Linked DNA regions of Homo sapiens. The protein of the gene in region 5 interacts with the protein of the main gene of each other region in a biochemical or structural test. Each region holds a gene or a part of one and is shown on either strand. Other genes may lie near its edges.

Evidence for each region.
Region 1: the proteins of LRP1 (region 5) and MBL2 form a complex in vitro, tested with the Homo sapiens proteins (one study listed by IntAct).
Region 2: the proteins of LRP1 (region 5) and F9 form a complex in vitro, tested with the Homo sapiens proteins (one study listed by BioGRID).
Region 3: the proteins of LRP1 (region 5) and F8 form a complex in vitro, tested with the Homo sapiens proteins (one study listed by BioGRID).
Region 4: the proteins of LRP1 (region 5) and PTPN11 form a complex in vitro, tested with the Homo sapiens proteins (one study listed by BioGRID).
Region 6: the proteins of LRP1 (region 5) and DAB2 form a complex in vitro, tested with the Homo sapiens proteins (one study listed by BioGRID).
Region 7: the proteins of LRP1 (region 5) and NOS1AP form a complex in vitro, tested with the Homo sapiens proteins (one study listed by BioGRID).

Annotation. Positions count from the first base shown.
Region 1 is NC_000010.11:52,767,333-52,769,784, forward strand, and holds part of MBL2 (mannose-binding protein C precursor), read right to left. Parts: intron 1,984-2,452; coding exon 1,915-1,983; intron 1,179-1,914; coding exon 805-1,178; 3' UTR 1-804. UniProt on the Homo sapiens protein: Calcium-dependent lectin involved in innate immune defense. Binds mannose, fucose and N-acetylglucosamine on different microorganisms and activates the lectin complement pathway.
Region 2 is NC_000023.11:139,547,739-139,551,238, forward strand, and holds part of F9 (coagulation factor IX isoform 1 preproprotein), read left to right. Parts: intron 1-624; coding exon 625-753; intron 754-3,323; coding exon 3,324-3,500. UniProt on the Homo sapiens protein: Factor IX is a vitamin K-dependent plasma protein that participates in the intrinsic pathway of blood coagulation by converting factor X to its active form in the presence of Ca(2+) ions, phospholipids, and factor VIIIa.
Region 3 is NC_000023.11:154,932,224-154,935,723, forward strand, and holds part of F8 (coagulation factor VIII isoform a preproprotein), read right to left. Parts: intron 1-3,500. UniProt on the Homo sapiens protein: Factor VIII, along with calcium and phospholipid, acts as a cofactor for F9/factor IXa when it converts F10/factor X to the activated form, factor Xa.
Region 4 is NC_000012.12:112,425,447-112,428,946, reverse strand, and holds part of PTPN11 (tyrosine-protein phosphatase non-receptor type 11), read right to left. Parts: intron 1-3,500. UniProt on the Homo sapiens protein: Acts downstream of various receptor and cytoplasmic protein tyrosine kinases to participate in the signal transduction from the cell surface to the nucleus. Positively regulates MAPK signal transduction pathway. Dephosphorylates GAB1, ARHGAP35 and EGFR.
Region 5 is NC_000012.12:57,134,983-57,138,482, reverse strand, and holds part of LRP1 (prolow-density lipoprotein receptor-related protein 1 preproprotein), read right to left. Parts: intron 25-3,500; coding exon 1-24. UniProt on the Homo sapiens protein: Endocytic receptor involved in endocytosis and in phagocytosis of apoptotic cells. Required for early embryonic development. Involved in cellular lipid homeostasis.
Region 6 is NC_000005.10:39,379,981-39,383,480, forward strand, and holds part of DAB2 (disabled homolog 2), read right to left. Parts: intron 3,292-3,500; coding exon 2,638-3,291; intron 1,637-2,637; coding exon 1,474-1,636; intron 1-1,473. UniProt on the Homo sapiens protein: Adapter protein that functions as a clathrin-associated sorting protein (CLASP) required for clathrin-mediated endocytosis of selected cargo proteins.
Region 7 is NC_000001.11:162,076,191-162,079,690, reverse strand, and holds part of NOS1AP (carboxyl-terminal PDZ ligand of neuronal nitric oxide synthase protein), read right to left. Parts: intron 1-3,500. UniProt on the Homo sapiens protein: Adapter protein involved in neuronal nitric-oxide (NO) synthesis regulation via its association with nNOS/NOS1. The complex formed with NOS1 and synapsins is necessary for specific NO and synapsin functions at a presynaptic level.

The DNA.
Region 1 (2,452 bases), on a different chromosome or scaffold from region 5:
ATGACATGAATGAATCTCACAGACTTAATTCTGAGTAAACAAGACATACAACATTACACACAATATGATTCCAACTATACAATGTTTATAAACAGACGAAATTACTGTGCAGTCATGGAGGTCAGAATAGTATTTTCCTAGGAGTTAGTACTAGGAGGAGTTATAACGGGGCTTCTAGGGAGTCAAAAATGTCCCATATCTTAATCTAGAAAGTGAGTATATAGGTATGTATGTGTGTGAGAATTTGTGAAGCTGTTTGCTTGAGATTTGTTATTTATGTTCTTTACATGGTTTAATATCTCATTAGAAAGAAAACAGAGTTCATAGAGAAAGTTACAAAATAGATTTTCTTAATACCTGAAACTTGGTAAAAAGCTGTGGTATTAAACTGTGGTGATGTCATTAGGGGAGCCCTCTACCCAAACAGAAAGGAAGGCTCAACAGAGCACAGGTGTTTGTTGTAAATGGAAAAATAAATCCGTCTTATTTTCATACTGCAGCAAGTTAACACTATCGAAAGCATTACAGATTAATTAAACTAGATAATTAATGTAGGATGCAAAAGATAGGGCCTCATAGTATATATTAAAAATATTATATAATTAGCATGACTACTACTGCTGCTGCTAACTACTACTACTACTATTATTGCTTTGTTGGTGCTGTTAGTGATCATTTTTAGTGATTGCCCACAAAAGGAACAATACTGGATATGAGGAAATTGATATAATTTATCTTTTCAAGCATACTGTGGGCCTGTGGGTTGCAGTAAAAAGACAAGGAGGGCCTGAGTGATATGACCCTTCAGATAGGGAACTCACAGACGGCCAGATGGGAGGTGGAGCAGGGGACGTCATTCCACTGGCCATTTTTCAGTAGCAATACACAATCTTCATCAGAACCAGCATTGTTGGGTTCACCCTCGTTCCAGTTTGTGTAGGTCAGTCTATTTCCTGTCAGATCCACAAACTGCCCTTCTGTCTTCTCATCAGTGATGCCCAGGAAGGCTTCCTCCTTGATGAGATTCTGAATGGCTCCATTCTCTGCAGCATTCCTGGGGGTGGCCACAGAGGCCTGGAACTTGACACACAAGGCCTTCACTTTTTCAAAGGTCATTATTTCACCATTGGTCAGGAAGAACTTGTTCCCAACTTGTTTGCCCAGAGAGAAGGTGAGCCCTAAAATGTGAAAAAGTGGGTGAAACTGACTCATCCTTAAGCCCAACTCAAGGTATTTCTCAAGAAAAAGTCTTCTAGAGTACAGTTGCCGGATAAAATATAGTATGTCCAGTTAAATTTGAATTTCAGACAAACAATGAATATTTTAGTATATCTCCCATATAATTTTTCAGACACACTTATACTAAAAATGTTTTTCAGCTGAAATCCAATTTAACTGGTGCTTTGTCTTTTTATTTGTTAAATATGGCAACCCAAATGTGAACAGACAGACTGGTACAAAGGCCTCTCTGTGCTTTCAGATCAGAATTCTAAAAGACATATAATTTGGACTTCTGAATTCTAAATTGTTAACTTGAGACCAAACAAAAAATGTCTGAAAATATTTGCCCCAGGCAGGTTAGACCCCACGGCCAGGTCTCAATACCAGTGCAACAAAGGGATATAAGTCCCATTTTCAGTGAGCAATATCAGACGGTAAAGGATTAGGGTCTCTCGAGTCAGACTGACTTCCATCTATAAACCACCCCTGCCATTTATTAGCTCTGTGCATTTGAACAAGTAATTTAACTTCCCTTTGCCTCCATTTCTACCAAAATGTTGTGAGAATTTCATGAGGTAAGAATATGAGAAATGCCTAGCAGGGTACAGAAAATTATATGCATTCAACAAATATTTGTTGCATTCTATTTTTCCCAAACTTCAAGCTGCCTGGAGAGTAAGAGAAAAAGCTTACACTTTTTGATACGTGCCATTTCTGTTTGCAGAGCTTTTCTTTCTGAGGCAGCCAGGCTACTATCACCATCTAGAAAATTAGAACAAAGTAAAGAAGCATTGTTGAGAAGGAGCCTCAGAACTGTGCATATACAAGGGAGTGGAGTATCTTTTTCAAACTGAAAAAAAAAGCTTATTTTACATTGATGTTTACACTTTGAAGGAAAATAAAAAATACTGAAAAGCCCAAAGAATGAAAAATCGCTATTTCCATCCAACCCCAAATGTCCCTCTTTGTCTGTTTACTGTATCCCAAAGTACGCATACATATCACATGCACACATATACTCCCTGATTACCTAGCAATCCATATGCCAGGTTCTTCACAGATTTTTTTTTCAAATAAATTGTTCTATCAAAACTAAAAAGAAATCTCTTGAGGCGTTACTCTATTATGACCTGGTGAAGAGTGACGAAAAAGATTGCAGAGTTTTTGTCTTTGGAGAGGTTTTGCTTTTGATGTCTTTTGTTTTGTTTTTGTTTTTTCCAGGTTTGTTCTG
Region 2 (3,500 bases), on a different chromosome or scaffold from region 5:
CTACACAGCAATGTAAATGAACTACTGCTGTACAAAACAACATGGTTTAATCTCACAGACAAAATGTTAAATGAAAGACACAGACGAGTACATATTGCGAACTTCTGTTTATAATTCAAGAACTGGCAAGAACTGTTTACTGTGTTAGAAGTCCAGGTAATGGTAACCTATAAAAAGGAAAAAGGGTGGAATGATTGGGAGGGGGCATCTTCTGGGGTATTGATAATGTGCTATGTATTGGTCAGTTTAGTGTTTAAACAGGCTCATTTACTTTGTGAAAACTTACACTAAAATTGTGTGTATTTTTTGAATATATGTTATACATTAATAAATAGGGTTTTTAAACCTGTAGTTCATAATTTAGTGAAAGTAGAATATCCAAACATTTAGTTTTAAACCAATCAATTATAGTGCTACCATCATTTTTATGCATTATTGAGAAGTTTATTTTACCTTTCTTTCCACTCTTATTTCAAGGCTCCAAAATTTCTCTCCCCAACGTATATTGGGGGCAACATGAATGCCCCCAATGTATATTTGACCCATACATGAGTCAGTAGTTCCATGTACTTTTTAGAAATGCATGTTAAATGATGCTGTTACTGTCTATTTTGCTTCTTTTAGATGTAACATGTAACATTAAGAATGGCAGATGCGAGCAGTTTTGTAAAAATAGTGCTGATAACAAGGTGGTTTGCTCCTGTACTGAGGGATATCGACTTGCAGAAAACCAGAAGTCCTGTGAACCAGCAGGTCATAATCTGAATAAGATTTTTTAAAGAAAATCTGTATCTGAAACTTCAGCATTTTAACAAACCTACATAATTTTAATTCCTACTTGAATCTGCTTCCTTTTGAAATCATAGAAAATATCAGTAGCTTGAATTAGACCAATTAATTTTCTAGATTGCATCATATTTTAAATATAAACTATGTAATCATCTACAACCTGAATTCTTTCTGTGTCCAATTTGTCCAATTTTTTTCTCTAACATTTATATCACAAAGCAATTAATTTGTGTGATTTCTGCATATGTATTTGTAATTCATCAAGTCAAATCAATGTAGTAATACTATATCATAAAATATACACAAATAATTGAGTGATAGGCTTCTAGTATAAGGACGGTAAGTTTGAAGCATGATTCTATCTGGGCTGGCTAGTTTACTCTGAGAAAGTTATTTTTTATTGTTGGGTCTTAAGCTGAGTTTACACACTTGGTGTCAGAATGATTCCGGCAATGAACTGTTTTATGTTCTGCTAGGCTGATCAGCACAATCTATATGGCTGTGAACAAAACAATGTTTCCCAGTCATGCCAACCATGCCACCATTTTAACAGCTGATTAGTGTATTCAGAACATCTCCACTCCATGTTCGTATGGCTGTTATCTAAAGATGAAAGCAGTAGACACTTTTATTTTTTGAAAAATTTAGGCTCTGCAGGGTCAATTATATTTGATAAATGAGGGGCTTTTTTGAAGCAAACTAGATATAATTTCTTTTGCATTTCTAAAGCCTGATATCTTATTAATTGGTACATTAAATTGTGCACCATTTCTCTGTAACTGTTTCAGTACCTGTCTCAGCACTATACCAGGCAGAAGAAATTAAAGAAAGAACCAGTGCCGAGATCAGCTTGGTCAGGGAGACCCTAATCCTGCGGCACTAGAGGAATTAAAGACACACACACAGAAATATAGAGTATGGAGTGGGAAATCAGGGGTCTCACAGCCTTCAGAGCTGAGAGCCCCGAACAGAGATTTACCCACATATTTATTGACAGCAAGCCAGTCATAAGATTTACTGAAAGTATTCCTTATGGGAAATAAAGGGATGAGTCTGGCTAGTTATCTGCAGCAGGAACATGTCCTTAAGGCACAAATCACTTATGCAATTGTCTGTGGTTTAAGAACACCTTTAAGCAGTTTTCCGCCCTGGGTGGGCCAGGTGTTCCTTGCCCTCATTCTGGTAAACCCACAACCTTCCAGTGTGGATATCAAGGCCATCACGAGCATATCACAGTGCTGCAGAGATTTTGTTTATGGCCAGTTTTGGGGCCAGTTTATGGCCAGATTTGGAGGCCTGTTCCCAACAAACCAGAAGCTAGGAATATATATCCTGCAAATAAAATGAAGAATCTCTAAGGCTTCAGGGCCTGCCCACTTGTTCTTCTGCCTGGTTCTTCACATACACTGTCTCAAAGCTAGTCTACCTTGAGAGGAGCATGAATATGTGTGTGGGTGTGTGTCTGTGTATTTTAACCTTAAAAACCTAACTTCCAGTATAGACAGATGGCATACTAGCTAAACCCTTACAAGTTCTTCTATGCTATAAAAGAGAAACAGAATTGAGAACCACCTCCAACTATTAAGTGTTATATTTGAATATAGCCTTAGCTTTAGCAGAATAAGTAGGCCAAACTTAAAATAAGCTTTTCTGCCTTTTCAATGATAAAGGTCCCTTTTCTGTAGCCATTGTTGATTGTGTACACTTATACATAAGTATTTTGAACTAATTTCCTGTTTTCTCAACCACTTGCTGTCTTCATGATACTTTGTCGCAGCTGGTTGCTATAGAAATGTCTGTTACAAGGAATGTGGCTTGAAGGAAAGTGATAAATGAAAATGAAATGTGAAGTGACTTTGTTTGACTACAAATTCCCATTCTGGTAGTCCCCAGTGTATCAATACATTATTTTTCTTTAGAAAATAAACCAACCCAAGGAAAAATGGTGGGCAGGTCCTGGTGAATATGGCTGTGATAATTATATTAGCAATCTCTTTGGCTAATATTTGAAGCCCAAATAATTGAATCACAATGATCTCTCCCCAGAAAATATATAAAATGCACCTTGGAATCTAGAAGGCCTTTTAGTCTGCAAAAGAAACCTTCTTAATCATAAGCAGCAGAAGTCCCATTTACCAAATTGGAAAGTTAAAGTTACAAAGCATCAATCATAAGACTTCCATTCAGGGATGGCAATTGGGAGTAAGACTTTTTAGTAAAGAAACTAAACACAAAGTCATTAGACTCTGTAAAAGTCTTACCAAATTTGATTCTGGAACACCTATTCTATTTCCGTAAAGATGATGAATTCCGGAGCCAAATGTTCTTTTCATGAAGGATTTGAAAACTGTCCATGAAAATAACGCAATCAACCTTTTAGCTTGAGACTCTATTCACTGATTAGATTTTTTTAAATACTGATGGGCCTGCTTCTCAGAAGTGACAAGGATGGGCCTCAATCTCAATTTTTGTAATACATGTTCCATTTGCCAATGAGAAATATCAGGTTACTAATTTTTCTTCTATTTTTCTAGTGCCATTTCCATGTGGAAGAGTTTCTGTTTCACAAACTTCTAAGCTCACCCGTGCTGAGACTGTTTTTCCTGATGTGGACTATGTAAATTCTACTGAAGCTGAAACCATTTTGGATAACATCACTCAAAGCACCCAATCATTTAATGACTTCACTCGGGTTGTTGGTGGAGAAGATG
Region 3 (3,500 bases), on a different chromosome or scaffold from region 5:
TAACACAATACCTAGCATCCACTGTCACCCACTTGCAGAATATGTAAGCACAAGGAAGGAGCATTTAGGTCTAGGATCCAGCTAATATAAAATTCTACCATGGTACTAGCAATATTAATTTCTACCATGAACAAGATTAGCTGAGTGAAGGAATGCAACAAGTTATAATAGGCTAATTACATGGTGGTAAAGTAGATGCATAAACATAAGAGACAAGATACACCTTTACCAAGCTACCCGTTGGGTACCTCAATAGCCTTGTCATTTCACACAGTCTTTTCAGGGAAGATCTTAACTGCATCCACCTTCTTCTCAAGGGAAGCTGCTCCCAAAAGCCCTGTGAATGCTTACATTCTATGTGCAGCCAAATTATCAATCAAGTGGCAAAGGAGAATAAAAACATATTCTAACATATAAAGACTCAGAAAATCTACCTCAAATGTCACCATTATCAGGAAGTGATTATGGAATGTTTGCCACCAAAATAAAGGAGTATCTCAAACAAGAGTAAGACCTGGTATCCAAGAACCAGGTACCTATCCTGAGGGAGGGTAAATAAAAGTCCCAAGTTGATAACTGAGCCTCAGGCCTAGAGAGAACCAGCTCAGACTGGAGCAGGGGGATGCATGCCTCTAGGAGGTCAATCTGTAAGCAAAAAGGAATACATTATATGATGGAACTCTTGAAAAAAAGAGGATAATTCAAAGGCAGACATTATAAGAAAAACAGGGAAACAATTAGAGATTCTCGTCAAACTAGTTACCAAAATGGACTTTTATTTACCCTCCCCTCTGAGAGGGGCCTGGTATTAGGAATGGTGACCAAGCTGGAGTTTAGTTTTAATGGCTTGGGTTAAAATTTTGTAATGAAAATATCTTTTTGTATTGTATGTGTGACTAATGGTAAATTTAAAACATTATAATTAATTCATAAATTTCAATCCAAGAACTTAGAGTTGGTTGTTTGATGAAAAAGTCAATAAAATAAATAACCAAATAAAAATTAAGAAATTTCACATATACAAAATTTGAAGTAAGAAAAGAGACATAATTACAGACACAAAGAAAATGAAAATAATTGTAATTCCCTTGGAGACACCTCAGCTGTCAATCTCCTCCTCCAACTTCTGACATAGGTATAAGCTATCTGGCCAAGTTGGGGTCTAGTCAGCACTACAAATATATAGATCAGTCTCCTGCCTCTGTGATCAAACCAGGGCTTTCACTGAACTAATTAATTCTGTAAGCTATTATCCGATCTTGGAACTAGTTACTAGCTGTTGAGTTGAGAAGGGAATTCGACATCCATTAAGTAGACAGAGAGTTAGGCTAAGAGCAAGCCACTTATCCTCTCGGCTAGCAAACCTTGATCAGAACATATTTGTACCTTGTTTAAGGACGAGAAAACATGCAATCTATAAATATACTACAGAACAGGGAGAAGGAAACAGAAGTCAGGAAACTTAGAGGCAATACCTACTTCTGAAAGTAATCCACTGCAGATTCTAGAGGAAAAGTAAGAACAAATATCTTGCCATACTAAAACACAAGAAGGCACAGCTTCCATAATTTAAAACCACAAAGACATAGCTTCTATAATTTAAGACTGGAAAGGGCATACACAAGGTGAAATGGTAATTCAGCTGGATGAAATAGAAAAGAATAATTATAAGAAAACTTAACACATAACAAGAGATGATCAGTTTGTGTGTGTATGGGTTCCAATAAAACCTTACAAAAACGGACAGAGACCAGACTACCCAAGGGCCATAGTTTGCCCACTCCTGATGTAGATGGTCACCCACTGTGCCTTTCATGGGGTTTCAAAAGATGACCAGTTTTTAAGGTAGTGAAGAAAGGGCTGGCCTTTCTTCTTGCTCCTTTCAGAAATTGCTGCAAATAATTAAAGACAGAGTACAATTAAGCTGGAAGATATCTGAAGCCATGAAACCACAAAATAGAAGTATAGTTAATATAAAACAGGTATCAAAAGATAAAAAGAGTGGATGCTCATGGCTGGCAGATTTCAGAAAAGTCCAAGAAGACATACTTCCTCATATCTTATACCGCCATATCTTCCCCATTTTTAATATCAAAGTCTAATTATTCCTCCTACTTCAGCCTCCCAAAGTGCTGGGATTACAGGCATGAACCACTGTGCCTGGCCTTGTTTCTTTCTTCTATCAAGGTGCAAGTATTATACTTTGATATGAAAAACAGTCAGTCATTCATTATAACAATGGGATCAGGGTATACAAGCTAGCATCGGTGGTTTTACTGGACTCCTTTCAACACAAGTCTCAAAAGGTAGGAAAGATGGGACCAGAAGAAAGAATCACATTGACAAGTCATTTTTGCACTGTAAGTCTGTTTTGCAAGGTGGGGAGGGGAGGAAAGAAATTCTGAAATGTAAACAACTCTGCAGCTTTGATCTTGATGGGCTGGAGAGAAGTAAAGGCTGAAAACTCACACATACAATCAATACCTTTCATAAGAGAATTCCTGCTAATCTAAAACTCACTCCTAATGCCTCATTGATATTAATATATCTACATAAACTTTCTGCGAAAAGTTTATTTAGAACAAACTCACCTCAATGATAAATAATAAGCAAAAAGGATCAAGATACTACAAGATAAAAGGAAGAAAGGAACAACAAGGCCAGGTGCAGTGGCTCATACTGGTAATCCCAGCACTTTGGGAAGCTGAGGTTGGAGGATTGCTTGAGCTTGGAGTTCAAGACCAGCCTGGGCAACAAAGCAAGACCCTGTCTCTACAAAAAATAAAAAAGTTAGCCTGGCATGATGGTGCATGCCTGTAGTCCCACTACTTGGGAGGCTGAGGTGGGAGGATTGCTTGAGCCCAGGAGGTTGAGGCTGCAGTGAGCCATGATCACACCACTTACTCCACCCTGGGCAACAGAGTGAGACCCTGTCTCACAAAAAGAGAAAGGAACAACAAAAACGAATAAAAGAAGAGCAGTAATAAAAAAAATGTTGCCAAGGAGAAGATAAAACTTGTAACCAAACATATCACCATAATCTAATGAGATGACCACATCTGAAAAACCAAAGTCTAATGTAGAATTAGCTATAAGAATTTATAGAAGACGTATGGGTCAATGGAACAGAATGGAGAGTTCAGAAATAAACTCTCACATTTATGGTCAATTGATTTTCAACAAGGGTGTCAAGATGACTTAATGGGAAAAGAATCATATTTTCAACAAATGGTGCCGGGACAACTGGATGTTTACATGCAAAAAATAAAAAAGAGGTTAGACCTCTTCTTCACACCATACACAAAAATTTATTCAAACTAGATCATAGACATATATGTAACAGCTACAACTATCAAACTCTTAGAAGAAAATATGGAAGTAAATGTGGCCTTGGGCTAGACAAAGCCTTCCTAGATGTGACATCAAAAGCACAAGTGACACAAGAATAAAAAGATAAATTGTATGTCATCTATGAGTTCATCAATTAACTCAACAACCCA
Region 4 (3,500 bases), about 55 Mb from region 5:
GGAGAAACCCCGTCTCTACTAAAAATACAAAATTAGCCTGGCGTGGTGGCACATGTCTATAATCCCAGCTACTCGGGAGGCTGAGGCAGGAGAATAGCTTGAACCCGGGAGGTGGAGGTTGCAGTGAGCTGAGATCACGCCATTACACTCCAGCCTGGGCAACAAGAGCTAAACTCCGTCTCAAAAATAAATAAATAAATAAGTAATATATAGTTAGAAATTGAAATAGCTATTCCATGACCATCTACTTGAGCTTTCGTAGATTTTAAACTTTCCTTCCATAGCTTTTTTTTTTCCAAAAGTATTCATAATTACCAAAAATGCTTCCCAGTTACAGGTTTAATACGTGTATTCAATCACTGACAATTCTGTAATTTGCAACTTGCTTATCACTAGCAAGGAGCAGTTAGAGTTCATTCGACCCTGAGAACTTAGTAAGAGAAGATAAAGAACAGTGGAATTAATAAAAATCTTAATGTATAGGGCCAGCCTCAAAGGTTATAAGCGCTTGTATATTAGTAAGTGAGGCAAAAAAAAAAAAAAAAAAAAAGACAACACACAGCTTGAACTCCCCATCTCACACCTAGCATAATTTGACACAATAGGGCTTAGTTTAAAAACTGAACCAACAAATGAAACCTGCAATGTAAGTACATCCATATAACCTGGAAGGAGGGGAAGTGGCAAAACGGTATGGCCTCATTTGAGTTTATCAACAAGTTTATTACAATTAATACAGAATGATTACAGTTAATTACAATTAACACAGAGGGTCCAGATAAGATGAGAAGAGACAAATAAATTTCCAGTCCTCAACATGTATATAGTAGGCACTTGATCAATGGCTGCTGAGTGAATGAATTTTGATAGGAGTAAAGGATAAAAAGACACTGATGGGCTAGGCACAGTGGCTTATGCCCATAATGCCAGCACTTTGGGAAACTGAGGCAAGAGAATCACTTGAAGCCAGAAGTGCAAGTCCAGCCTGGACAGCATAGCAAGACCCCGTCTGTATAAAAAATGAAAAACTTAACTGGGCATAGTTGTACGCACCTGTGGTCCCAGTTACTTGGGAGGCTGAGGCAAGAGGATCACTTGAGCCCAGGAGTTTGGGCTTCAATGAGCTATGATTGCATCACTGCAATCCAGTGTGGGTGACAGAGCAAGACCTTGTCTCAAAAAAAATAAATAAATAAAAATAAAAATAAAAAAACACTGAGGGGAGGGGGTAGAGAGTTACAAGGAGAGGGAAGTAAGCATCCTTCTCCTCATCTTGCTCATTCTAACACCTGCAAAACCTGCCAGCCCCTGACAATCCCTTCTAACCAGCCATCATCTGGCATTATCTATATCTATATCTATATAGATATAGATATATAGATATATAGATTTTTTTTTTTTGAGACAGAGTCTCGCTCTGTCGCCCAGGCTGGAGGGCAGTGGCACAGTCTCGGCTCACTGCAACCTCCACCTCCCGGGTTCACGCCATTCTCCTGCCTCAGCCTCCCGAGTAGCTGGGACTACAGGCACCCACCACCAGGCCTGGCTAATTGTTTGTATTTTTAGTAGAGACAGGGTTTCACCATGTTAGCTAGGATGGTCTCGATCTCCTGACCTCCTGATCCACCCGCCTCGGCCTCCCAAAGTGCTGGGATTACAGGTGTGAGCCACCACGCCCAGCCTATATCTATATTTTTTTTTGAGACAAGGTCTCACTCTGTCACCCAGGCTGGAGTTCAAAGACACGATCTCGGCTCACTGCAACCTCCACCTTCCAGGTTCAAGCAATTCTCCTGTCTCAACCTCCCAAGTAGCTGTGACTACAGGCATGCACCACCACACCTGGCTAATTTTTCTATTTTCTGTAGAGACAGGGTTTCACCCACGTTACCCAGGCTGGTCTCAAACTCCTCAGCTCAGGTGACCTGCCAGCCTCGGCCCCTCAAAGTACTGGTATTATAGGTGTGAGCCACCACGCCCGGCCATTATCTATATTTATTAAGGATCGCTGGCCAGGTGCAGTGGCTCACACCTGTAATCTCAGCACTCTAGGAGGCCAAGGAGGGAGGATAGGTTGAGCCCCAGAGTTCAAGACCAGCCTGAGCAACATAGTGAGACCTCGTATCTACAAAAATAAAATAAATAAAATAAAAAAGATCACACAGCCCAGGTAGGTACCACTCATCTCATAGAAAGACTTACACACACATACACACACACACAAACCAGCACTTGGGGAAAAGAGCCTCAAATCAATGTCTAAAATAAGCTCCAGGGCCTATTACACATGACCCCTGTGTTGAGTGGGTTTTAAAAAATGGGAGACATAATTTGTGTCTGTAAGAGTTTACATTTCTCAGCAACAAAAAGAGGAAAAAAAACAAAGTTTTGGCCGGCTGCGGTGGCTCACACCTGTAATCCCATCACTTTGGGAGGCTGAGGCAGGTAGATCACCTGAAGTCAGGAGTTCAAAACCAGCCTGGCCAACATGGTGAAACCCCATCTCTACTAAAAATACAAAAATTACCCAGGTGTGGTGGCGCATGCCTGTAATCCCAGCTACTCAGGAGGCTGAGGCAGGAGAATCGCGTGAATCAAGGGGGCAGAAGTTGCAGTGAGGCAAGATGGTGCCACTGCACTCCAGCCTGCGCTACAAGAGTGAAACTCTGTCTCAAAGAAAAAAAAAAGAGTTTACAAACCTGAACTATCTGTCAGGAAATCACACCCGAAATCTGAATGCAGATTCTGCAAAGGCTTTACTCTTTGAGGCTAGGGACTTATGTCAAGTGAGTTTTAAAAAAAGATGCTGATGAAACAAAAAGAAAATACAATGATGCTGAATATTTTGTTTTATCTATGCATCCCCCTCCTCCAGTGATGTGGGGAAACAGTCAAGCTGGCCAGTAATTTCAGGAACTTCATCTCAAGGCTGCTATACTGAGAAAGGAGGTTTAGGCTGGGGGCAGTGGCCCATGTGTGTAACCCCAGCACTTGGGGAGAATCGCTTGAGCCCAGGAGTTCCGACCTCATCTCTATAAAAAAATCAAAAAATTAGCTGAATGTGGTGGTGCACGCCTGCAGTTCCAGCTACTCAGGAGGCTGAGGAGGGTGTATCCCTTGAGCCCAGGAGGTTGAGGCTACAGTAAGCTATCATTGCAACATTGCCCTCCAGCCTGGGTGACAGAGTGAGACCTTGTCTCAAAAAAAGAGAGGGGTGGAATTTAAACTAGGGATCCAAAGTCTAATTTCAGGGTGGGAGGGGTTTGAGGGATGAGAAATTACTTAATGGGTACAATGTATGTTATTCAGGTGCTGGTTACACTAAAAGCCCAGACTTCAATGCTGGATAATACATTCATGTAATAAAACTGCACTTGTAACCTTTAAATGTATAAAGTCTAATTTCAGTTTCTTGTATACATATAAATTTATATCTTTCTTACCTGCTACTCCAGAAAAATTATTATATTTGTTCTTGGGGAATAAGTTTATAGTTTGTT
Region 5 (3,500 bases):
GCTTGGGGCTGCAAGTCTTAGGGGCTAGGGCAAGGAAAGAAAAGGGGATATAAATGAAGGATGGAGGCCAACTCTGTGAACCCAAAGTCCCCTAGTACTGCTCTTCCTTCCCTAGCATCAGTCTCCATCTGGCCCAGACCCTCAGCCATGGTCTATGTGCCTGGGGGTGTCAGGGGGTGGCTTTGGGTAGTTCCTAGACACTGTGTATCTGCGGTGGGGGTGGGGAGGATCCAGAAGCACATTTTACTGCACCCCTCCAAGTCCTCTAGGCTGCCTGTTCCTGGGAGTCAGGGTCAAAGCCTTTGCTATTCTTGGTTACTCTCATCAGACACCAGCACCCCCTGGCTTTGATGACAGAGTGATGGTGAAGGGGGGTGCATTTAGGCCTTGACATGTTTTCTCTTTGTCTTCCTCTAACTCCTACTACTAGAGGCCCCGAGCTGGTCTTATCTAACCTCTCTGCTTCCCTGCCTTCTGGGACACTCCTGGTCCCCTGACCCATCACCCCATCCTTCCCAACCCCTAATCACTAGGCCCCCAGATGGGAGCAGTGGGGAGGGATGCCCTTGGCACACACAGTAGTAGTTGGAGATGGTATTAGCAGAGGCACAGGAGGGCAAGGCTGGGCAGGAATGGGCAGGGTAGAGAGCCTTGCTTCCATTTCCATTCCCTATTTTTTTTTTTTTTGAGACAAGGTCTCACTCTGTCCCCCAGGCTGGAGTGCAGTGGCACAATCTCAGCTCACCGCAACCTCCACCTCCTGGGCCCAGGCGATTCTCCTGCCTCGGCCTCCCCAGTGGCTGGAACTACAGACATGCATCACCATGTCCAGCTAGTTTTTGTATTTTTAGTAGAGACGGGGTTTCACCATGTTGGCCATGCTGGTCTCAAACTCCTGACCTCAGGTGATCCACCTGCCTTGTCCTCTCCATTCTCTAAAGACACAGCCTCCCTTGGTTAGACCTCAGGGAGACTTTCAGTAGACATCCTTAGAGTTAAGAAGCACCTAAAGATTTTCAAGATATCAGAATTGGGGAGCAGAGGCAGGGGGATGGCTGAAATGAACTCTAGGAACTGGTTTCAGTCCAGTCCAACTAGTTAGCTACTATATTCAGGACCTCTTGGCCCTACCCTCCCACCCCAATCAGGCTTCTTCCACTCCTACCCCATTCTCTTCCCTCATCCCCCAAGGAGGAATTAAGAATGGTGACAACTAACTCTGTTGTTTTTTTTTTTTTTTTGAGACAGAGTTTTGCTCTTGTTGCCCAGGCTGGAGTGCAATGGCACGATCTTGGCTCACTGCAACCCCTGCCTCCCGGGTTCAAGTGATTCTTCTGCCTCAGCCTCCAGAGTAGCTGGGATTACAGGCATGCGCCACCACGCATGGCTAATTTTGTATTTTTAGTAGAGACGGGGTTTCTCCATGTTGGTCAGGCTGGTCTCGAACTCCCAACCTCATCTGATACATCCATCTCAGCCTCCCAAAGTGCTGGGATTACAGGCGTGAGCCACCGCACCCGGCTGACAACTAACTCTTATTGTGGGCTCAGTATGTGCCAGGAACTGTGGTAAAGCAGTTTTTTCCATGTATCATCATATTTAATTCCCTCCACAGTATGACAAATAGGGACAACTAATACCACCATTTCACAGATGAAGAAATTGAGCCAGGTGACTTGGCCAGGGTCAAATAGCTGGCAAGTGACAAAACCAGCTAAGCTGACTCCAAGCTCTGAACCAGTGAAATCCACACCAGTCCTCCGAATTCCCACTCCTCCCAACCTCTATCACCACATCCTCCACAGGAGGAACAGTCACCCACCCCTTCTCCCCCACCCAAGGCTGAGCTCCCAGTCTCCTGGCCTTTCGTGGCTTTTCCTCAGACTGTGCCATCACATTTCTATTCTGCTGGCACACACTGAAGGCCAGCTCTATGCCAGGCACTGCACTAGGCATCAGGGTGCCAAGGAGGGTGAGATGACCCTCTGCCCTGCAGGAGCCAGAGTCGCCTGAGAAGACAGCTGTACCCAACTAATGCAAATGCAGGGCAGAGACAGAAGTATAAGGAAAATGGCGGGGGGGGGGGGCTCTTAGGAGGGAGGGAGTCTGATGGGAGCCTCACTGAGATGTCTTCCCTCCTAACCCCCACCGCTGGCAGGGGAGACGGCACTCAGGCCCCTGGCCAAAATGACCGAGTTCAGGAAACACATCAAGGATGGCCTAGCCAGGCTCCCCCTTCAGCCTCCCTCCCCTGGCCCCCACCCTGAGCCTGGAATAAAGGCCCCTTGAGGAGGTGGATAATGCTGAGTTCATTGCCCCACTGGGCCAGCTGTGAGGTCTTCCCGGGAAACACAGCCCGCCAGCCTAGTTAGCATGCCGGAGAACCGTCCGCTTCCCCTGACCAGCCGTGGCCGGCTGAGGGGGAAGAGGGGGGCTGGAATGGGACTCAGAGGCAGATGAGATGTTTGGAGCCCAGAAACAGACCCCCGTGCCACCCACCTGGGACTTGGTCCATGCCCTGCTCCTCCCAGGGGCAGAGCGCACAGCCACGGCCTGAGGTCACCGGGTGGTCACCTAACCTCCCCTCCATTCCACATCCCAGCCATGGTGCCCCCTCCTTTAGCCCTCACTGAGTCCCCCCCGCTGTCCCCCACCCCCATTTTTGGCCTGAACTCCACAGAGGAAACAGCAGCTGGCAAACTCCAAAAGCTGGAATGAGAGAGATTCACAAACCAGATGTGCTCTTGCAGGGAGGGGATGGGGGATGGGACAAGTGAAAGGAAGAGGAGGGCCCAGGCCCCTATCCCACAGCAGCACCGGGGGAGGGGGCCACATCTCCCGAGGGCCTGGCCAGCACAAGGATTGCAGAGAGATACGTGAAAGAACTTCCTGTCAGGGCTGGTGTTGAAGGGCCCAGGAATCTGGAGCGAGAAGGCTGAGGCCTGTCTTTGATTTCCTTCAGGGGGAGAGGGAAGAAAGAAACAAATAAACTACTTTGGGACAGTCTACACAGCCAAGGGAAGCCTCACTCAGAGCTGGGAGAGAGCTGAGTTGGGAGCGGGGTAGGACCCTTATAATCTGCTTAGAGGGAAAGCCAACCCCACTCCCCTCAGCAGAGCCTTCTGTGTCTGAATCCAGCACCCAGAAAACCCACCTTTGTGGCCTGCAGTTTAGATGAGAGAACAACATTGCCCTAAGGTCAAAAGCAACTAAGGCCTTCCCCGCCTCCTGGCCCGCATGAGAGAACCCGGAGGTCTCCCTGACCGATGGGAGCTAACCTTTTTCACCTTGCTAACCACCAGCCACTGATTGGAAATACGGTGACTATTAACTCACTTAGATACTATAACCCTGTGAGGTGGGTGCCCTTGCGGCCCCCCTCTCACACATGGGGGAGCTGAGGCACAGGGTGACTGGTAACTGAGCAGGTGGTTTCCTCATAGGTCATGGGATGCAGCCGGGTTAAGAAAGGAAACCAGGCCGGGCATGGTGGCTCATGC
Region 6 (3,500 bases), on a different chromosome or scaffold from region 5:
TTCAGGCTGACTTGTTAAATATTGGCTGCAAAAATTCTTAAGGGCATTGATATCAGATAAAAAGCTCTGTGATGTGATCTCGCTGCAGACATTGCATTGCAAGCACTCTGGTCTTCTGTGAGGGAAGGGTACCAACCAGCTCCACTTGGGGGTGCAAGGAAAAGAGCAACGCAGAAAGGGGGAAGCCCCCAAGAGACATGAAGTCTTTAGAGAGAGCCTCTTGATGGGGTAAATGCGAGCAGAGACCTGGGACAAGCTGGCTTTTCATACCCTCACGGATTTCTGCCACTCAGCAGTTGAGTAACAGTCCTCCTCTGGCCACCCTATTCTAGATATGATTAAACAGATTTCTTGTAAAAGAACCAAACTATTTTCCTTTGTAGGAAAACAACAGAGACAGAGAGGAAAACAAAACAAGGATCCTGATGACTGACTGCAGGAGGCAGAGAAAGCCAGGATCCCTGGTCAGATTTTACCGAAGGAGAGGAGAGTCCTTCCTCGTCTACAGTCCTCCACCTCCCAAGCCAGAGTCCATTTGGAGTTTGTAGAGGTGCCAAGAGAAGAAAAATAGAGTCCATAGCAGGACAGCAAAAACTATTGTCAGGGTTTCTGAAAACTGTACCATGGAGTCTGAAAAGAACTATAGGCTATGGACTAAGAATAGCAAGGCCAGCCCTCAGTCAAGTGGACTTTCCCACTGTCCTACCACAGAGTGATCAGCGGCTCACACAAGCTAATGACACATTTAGGAATTAAGAGCGTCAATGCATACTAGCTGTCTGATAAAATTCCATCTCTTCCCTTATTTCTCTCTTTTTTCAACTTTGGCTTTCTAGGACTTATGTTCTAGCTTCAGTAAAACACTCAAGCTAGCCAAAATATTGGCAAGGAGCTCCTATGGCAGAAGTGCTCAGAGACTGATCAGGATGTGTGCCTGATCTACCCTTACCATACACCTAGGAACACAGCTGGGCCCAGAACCTAGGACTTTCACTCTATGACTTATTCTTGCTTCAGACTTAACTTACATCCTTCTTGGGCATATATTCCTTCTAAGAGGGCTATGTGTTGAAAGGACATAGGCCTTCGATCTATTATGGCAAAAGACATGGAAGACATGCATGTTGACAGACAAGCCTCTCTTATGTCAACCCTGTTTTGCTACTGAAGCTGGTCTGAGTTTAGAATCCCTTACAATTGTCTTTCAGGAAACCATGACCAGTTGGTTCAAGTAAGTACAATACTGAAAATGAATTTCTTGTCTCATGCTGCCTCGAGGAGCCAAATGTGAGTTACAAGTCAAGAATATCAAATGGATGTGGGGTTGTATAGTAGAAGTGGGAGAAGGGCTCCCTGGGATGCTCAAATCTTATGCTGTAAAACCCTCTGGGAGTATGAAATCTCTTCCGATGCATCATCATTTTATGAGCAAAAGCAAAAGAGTCATACTTAATTTTATCTCTAGGCACCTACCTAGACCCACCAGGGGCCCCACTGGGGCAGGAGCACTTGTTTTGAAGAGATCCAGAGGGTTGGGCTGCAGGGCTGTAGGTTGTCCTGTGGGTGACGCCTGGCCTGAAGGTTCTGAGACGGGAGGAGCAAAGATGTCTGATGCAAGCAAGTCATTGGCTGAAGACTGACAGGACAGGGAGGGAGGGAGAAGCCTTAGTTACTCACTAACAGTGAAATACAGCCTCATTTTGTCTCCTACCCTATACCCCAATTTGAGAGCCACAAAAAGGAAAACTTTTTTCTTGACAGATGAACAACAACAACTACTACTACAGAAAAAGAGTCCTCCAAAAAAAGACACAGATTCCTACAACGGACGGACTACTGAGTCTTAGTGTCTGACACTACCTAGGACTTGCAAAGTGAAATCTACTATATTCCTTTACACACTCACATTGGTCTGGTCTCATCGCTAAATGCTTGAAGTTGGGGGAGCAAGTGTGTAAAAGGGGCAACTACCAATAAGCATCCTAAATATTTTTGTTCATTCCATTGGATTTTAAGTCAGTCTACATAGAGATCATAGGGTCTTAATCCAGGCAAGCCTGTATATTCTTAGGAGAGGTAAAAAAAGACACCTATGGGAACTGCATTTTAAATTGCTCTTAAATAAAGCTGAGATCATAGTGGTAATAGTAAATACATAAGCTTAGAAAAAGCTTATGTATTTACTCAGTATTTAAAAGAGGAGATAAGCTCGAGAATTTTATACCACCACCATGGACACTGATGCAACATGATGGGTGTGCAGGGCATGTGTTAGTGTCAGGGAAGTACAAAGGGAATCACAAGAACTCTCACCCTCCCAACCCAGAACACGATGATCAAACTTACCAGAGGTATAGAAGCATAGCAGCATTAAAAATGGAAAAACTTGTGTTTAGTTTAATCATAAGTGACAAGACATGCACACGGAAAGCAGGGTGTGAAAAACACTGCTGAGAAGCTTAAAAACGGTGGCAGTTAGAGGAAAGTACTCCTGGAGAACCAAAGTGCCTTATCCCACCTTCTATTTCACAGCAACACAGGAAACTACGAGAGCAGCAGGAAAGAGAGCTTGCATCACACCACCCTTTGGTACCGAACATGCACTCTGCTAATGGATATGTGGAGAAGACAATTCACCTTAGCAGTCCTTCTGCCTCTTCCTGGTTTGGTACTTTGTGGAGGTGGGATAATGGCTATGGAGTCATGTGGTGAGGACTGGACAGAGCTTTCCAAGTCCTGCTTTACGCCATTCTGTATGGACAGTCCTTTGGGAGGGCTTCCCACAAAAGGGTTCGGGGAGGATTTGACAGAGAAGCCGTTCTGTTCTCTTTCAGATACCCCATTTTGAGTTCTCACTGCTGGCTGGGTTTGCGAACTTGAAAAGGGCCATGGGCCTGCCTGAGCTTCCTGTTTGCCAGTCCGGTTAGAGATCTGGTCAAATTGCTGACCAAAGTAGTCAACATCACCATTCAGGGGCCCATTACTCAGCGGAGTAGACGAGCTACTCGAATTCTCTTTCTTCTGATCTGGAGATTTGAGAGAATCAAACGAAGAAGGTGTCGATTGGTCTGGCTGTGTGAAAGGATCGTCACGGAAAGGATCAGGATTAGGGGTGGGAAAGAAGTTGAGATTGGCAGAAAAGGCATTTTCAGGCAAGAAGGATGCCTGAGGCGTTGGTCGAGGAAGAGAACAGGAGGTGATGCCGTTTGTTAAGAATGGATTTTCTCTTAAAGAATTCTGATTGGTGTCGATTTCAGAGTTTAGATCCACTAACAGGATATCTTTGCTTTCCTATCACATTTGGAAAGAAAAAAAAAGAAAGTGTTAGTCCATGTTGTGACTTCAAATGAGAAAATTACATAAGATGACTAGGATTATCAGAATTTCCATTTGAATTTGGTCTTGATAAATCGGTTGATCATTACCTCCTTCCATCAACCCCCGTAGTCCATTACTCCCTAGCTATAGACTAGGTCCTTTCTATTCCTCCCCAATATCAT
Region 7 (3,500 bases), on a different chromosome or scaffold from region 5:
AACTCTGTGTCATGCACGGTGCTAGGCCATTTACAGGTACTACTGATTCAATCCTCCCATTAACCCTACGAAGTATGAGATATTTGTATCCTCTTTTTACAAATGAGAACGCTAAAGGAAAGATGTTACATAACTCACACAAAGTCAAGTAGCAAGTGAGGGATAGAGCCAGGATTTGAACCCAAACACAGTTTGGCTCCTGAATTCATGCCATGCTATGCTACCAACCAAATTCATGTCATAAAAATTGCAAAGTAGCAAATTACAGAAAATAAACCATGAATTAGGAAAAAAAAAAGACATCAATTCATTAATGAGAAAACAAGTTGAAAATGTTTCTTACATAAATGACAATTGAGAAATGACAATTACCTACTCCTGAAATTGGCCATATGTTCTATATTCAGATTCTAATTCCACTGGACATCCATCAGTGGAATTTTATTTAATTCAGGAAAAAAAAATGCTTACTTGGTATTTTCATTGGAAGGAATCAGCACTGTGTGAGATTGGGGGTATCAGAAAGAGGCCATGCTGGGGGGTCCCTCAAGCCACTGGGAACCGGAAGTTACTAGACTAAAGCAAGAGAAATGGTGGGGAGGAGTGGAGAGTCAATTAAGGCACCTCTCACCATTGGGTGACCCAGGAGGGTCCTGGCCATCTTATAGGGATCATCTCTTTCATTCAAAATACATTTTCTATGTGCAAGGCACTGTACTCAGGGCTGTGGAAGACACGGGGGCAGAGTGACATGGACCCTGACAATGACAATGTAGGGATGAAAATTGGACAGGACAAGCAGCTCTAATACAAAGCAGGTGGGACTGGTAACATCCACTTCACAGAGTGACTTGTGAACGGGGTGGGAAACTGCAGTGAGGGTTAAGGGAATGGTGGGTACTACAGTTGGGTTGAAGCCCAGGGTGATTAAAGGGAATTGTTCAAAAACAGCCTTGAATATCATACTAAGAATTTTGGTTCTAATATAGTAGGTACAGAAACTTTTCATGTTTTTGAGTGGGAGGATAACCATTTCAAGAAAATTGATAGGGCAAAAGTTTAAGGGATGAGGGGGATCAGAGAACAAGTGGGACACTGGAGGCCTTCAGAAGGTTATTGATGGCCCTGATAACAGGGGAGGGGGTGGAGCATCTGAACGGGTGATGGACCAGCCAGGGTGGGTGGATGGATGTCACTGGGAACATTCAAGAGGATTTGGCACCTAACTTGATGTGGGGTACAGGAGAGTAGAGCCTGGACATCATAGGTACCCAGTAAACAGCAAATTTGAGTTGGCTGTTAAATCAAAGAATACAAGGGGTACTTTAAAGTGTCAGGCCCATGTGCCCAAGAGGATGGTGGGGTCGTTAAAAGACAATGAAGTCAGAAGAGAAATTTGATTTCCAGCTTGTTGAGTGATAGGGACAGCAACACATTCAGGTACAGATGACCAGCAGGAAGCTGCGCATAAAGATGTGGAGTCTGGACTGAAGTAGAGAGCCAGCAGCCTGCATAACAGAAGAGTGGGAGTAGATAGAATCCAAAGGAGAGGGAATGGAGCACTCACAGTAGAGGGCAAAGGGAGGAGGTAGAACAGCCACAAAAGAAGGAGGTATGGGCAGGGGCAAGGGGCTGGCTGACTGCAAGCAGGCACAGAGAGCCCAATGAGGCATTCCACAGAGGACTAGGACAGGCAGCTCAGGAAGAAAAGTCAAAAAGGATGAGGATAGAGAAGGGGGCAGCAGAGCAATTTCAGTACAGCAGCCAGGACAGAAGTTGGAAGGAAGTGGCCAGGGACTGAATGAAGACTGAGATACTGCAGAGGGTGGAGTACTCTCTCACAAGGCTTAGCTGTGAAAGGAGGAGAAAGACAACATGTTAATTAAAGAAAGAGGTGGAAAGAAGAGGTATTTCATACAGGGAAGGCCATAGCATACTCTTAGGCAGGGAGGAGTAAGCCAGTGCCCAGGAGATGTAACTGTGCCAGGGTGGGGGTGGGGAGTGAAGGGCATAATTAAGAGGACAAGGGCAGACTAACAGGACATGGAAGGCAGATGGATCTCAAAATGAGGGAAAAAGAAAAAAAATTGGACTTCACCAAAATTTAAAACTTTGTGTTTCAAAGGACAATACCAAGAAAGTGAAAAGACCACAGAATGGGTAAAAATATTGCAAATCTATATAAGGGATTTGAATCCAGAATATATAAAGAACTCTTACAACTCAATAGTAAAAAAGCCAATCCAACTTTTAAATGGGCAAAGGATCAGAATAGACATTTCTCCAAAGAAAATATATAAATGGCCAAAAAACACATGAAAAGATGGTCTTTTTTTTTTTCTCTGAGTCTGCTTCCTAGGGAATGAGGAGACATTCTATGTTGTTCAAAAGGGAAATGCAAATCAAAACTATGATGAAATCCCACTTCACACCCAGGAGGATGGCTAGAATCAAAAAGTCAGACAACAAGCATTGGTGAAGATATGAACACACTGCTGGTGGAAAGGTAAAACGATGCAGCCACATTGGAAGTCCCACAAATGGTCACACATGGTTACCATGGGACCCAGCCATTTTACTTTTACCCAAGATAAATTTTAAAAAATAAAAATAAAAACATGCCTGCACAAAAACTTGTACATGAATGTTTATAGCATTATTTTTAAGAGGCAAAAATGGAAACAACCTAAATGTGCCTCAGCTGATGAATGAACAAACCAAATGTGGTATATCCATACAATGATATATTATCCAGCCATATAAAGGAATTAAGTACTGATAAATTATAGATGAACCCTGAAACACAACACTAAGGCAAAGAAGTCAGACACAAAAGACCACATATTGTATAATTCCATAAATATGAAATGTCCCGAATAGGCAAATCTAGAGACAGCAAGTAGATTAGTGGCTGTTCAGGTCTGGGAAGACGCAGGGGGTAAGGATTACAGGTGTGTGCCATCATGCCCAGCTAATTTTGTATTTTTAGTAGAGATGGGGTTTCACCATGATGGCCAGGCTAGTCTTGAACTCCTGACCTCAAGTGATCCACCCGCCTTGGCCTCCCAAAATGCTGGGATTACAGCAGTGAGCCACCGCGCCCAGCCTAGTGTTTCTTTTTAATGTGATGAAAATGTTCTAAAATTGACTGTGGTGCTGGTAGTACAGATCTGTAATATCTTAAAAATCACTAAATTATACATTTTAAATTAGTGAATTGTATGGTATGTGAACTACATCTCAATAAAACTATTAGAAAGGAGGGAACTCAATAGTAAAAAGCCAATCCAACTTTTAAATGAGCAAAGGATCAGAATAGACATTCTCCAAAGAAAATATATAAATGGTCTTTTCCAAAAACAGAAAGGAAGAAGAAAAGTAGCAAAGATCAAGTTTGCAGGGTAGGGCAAAAAGGCAGGAAGGAACGGCCATGGGCATGGTCCCAGGCTGCTGGGGAGGGTAGACAGCAGGACAAGGGCAGCAAAAAGGTCACTGAGGAG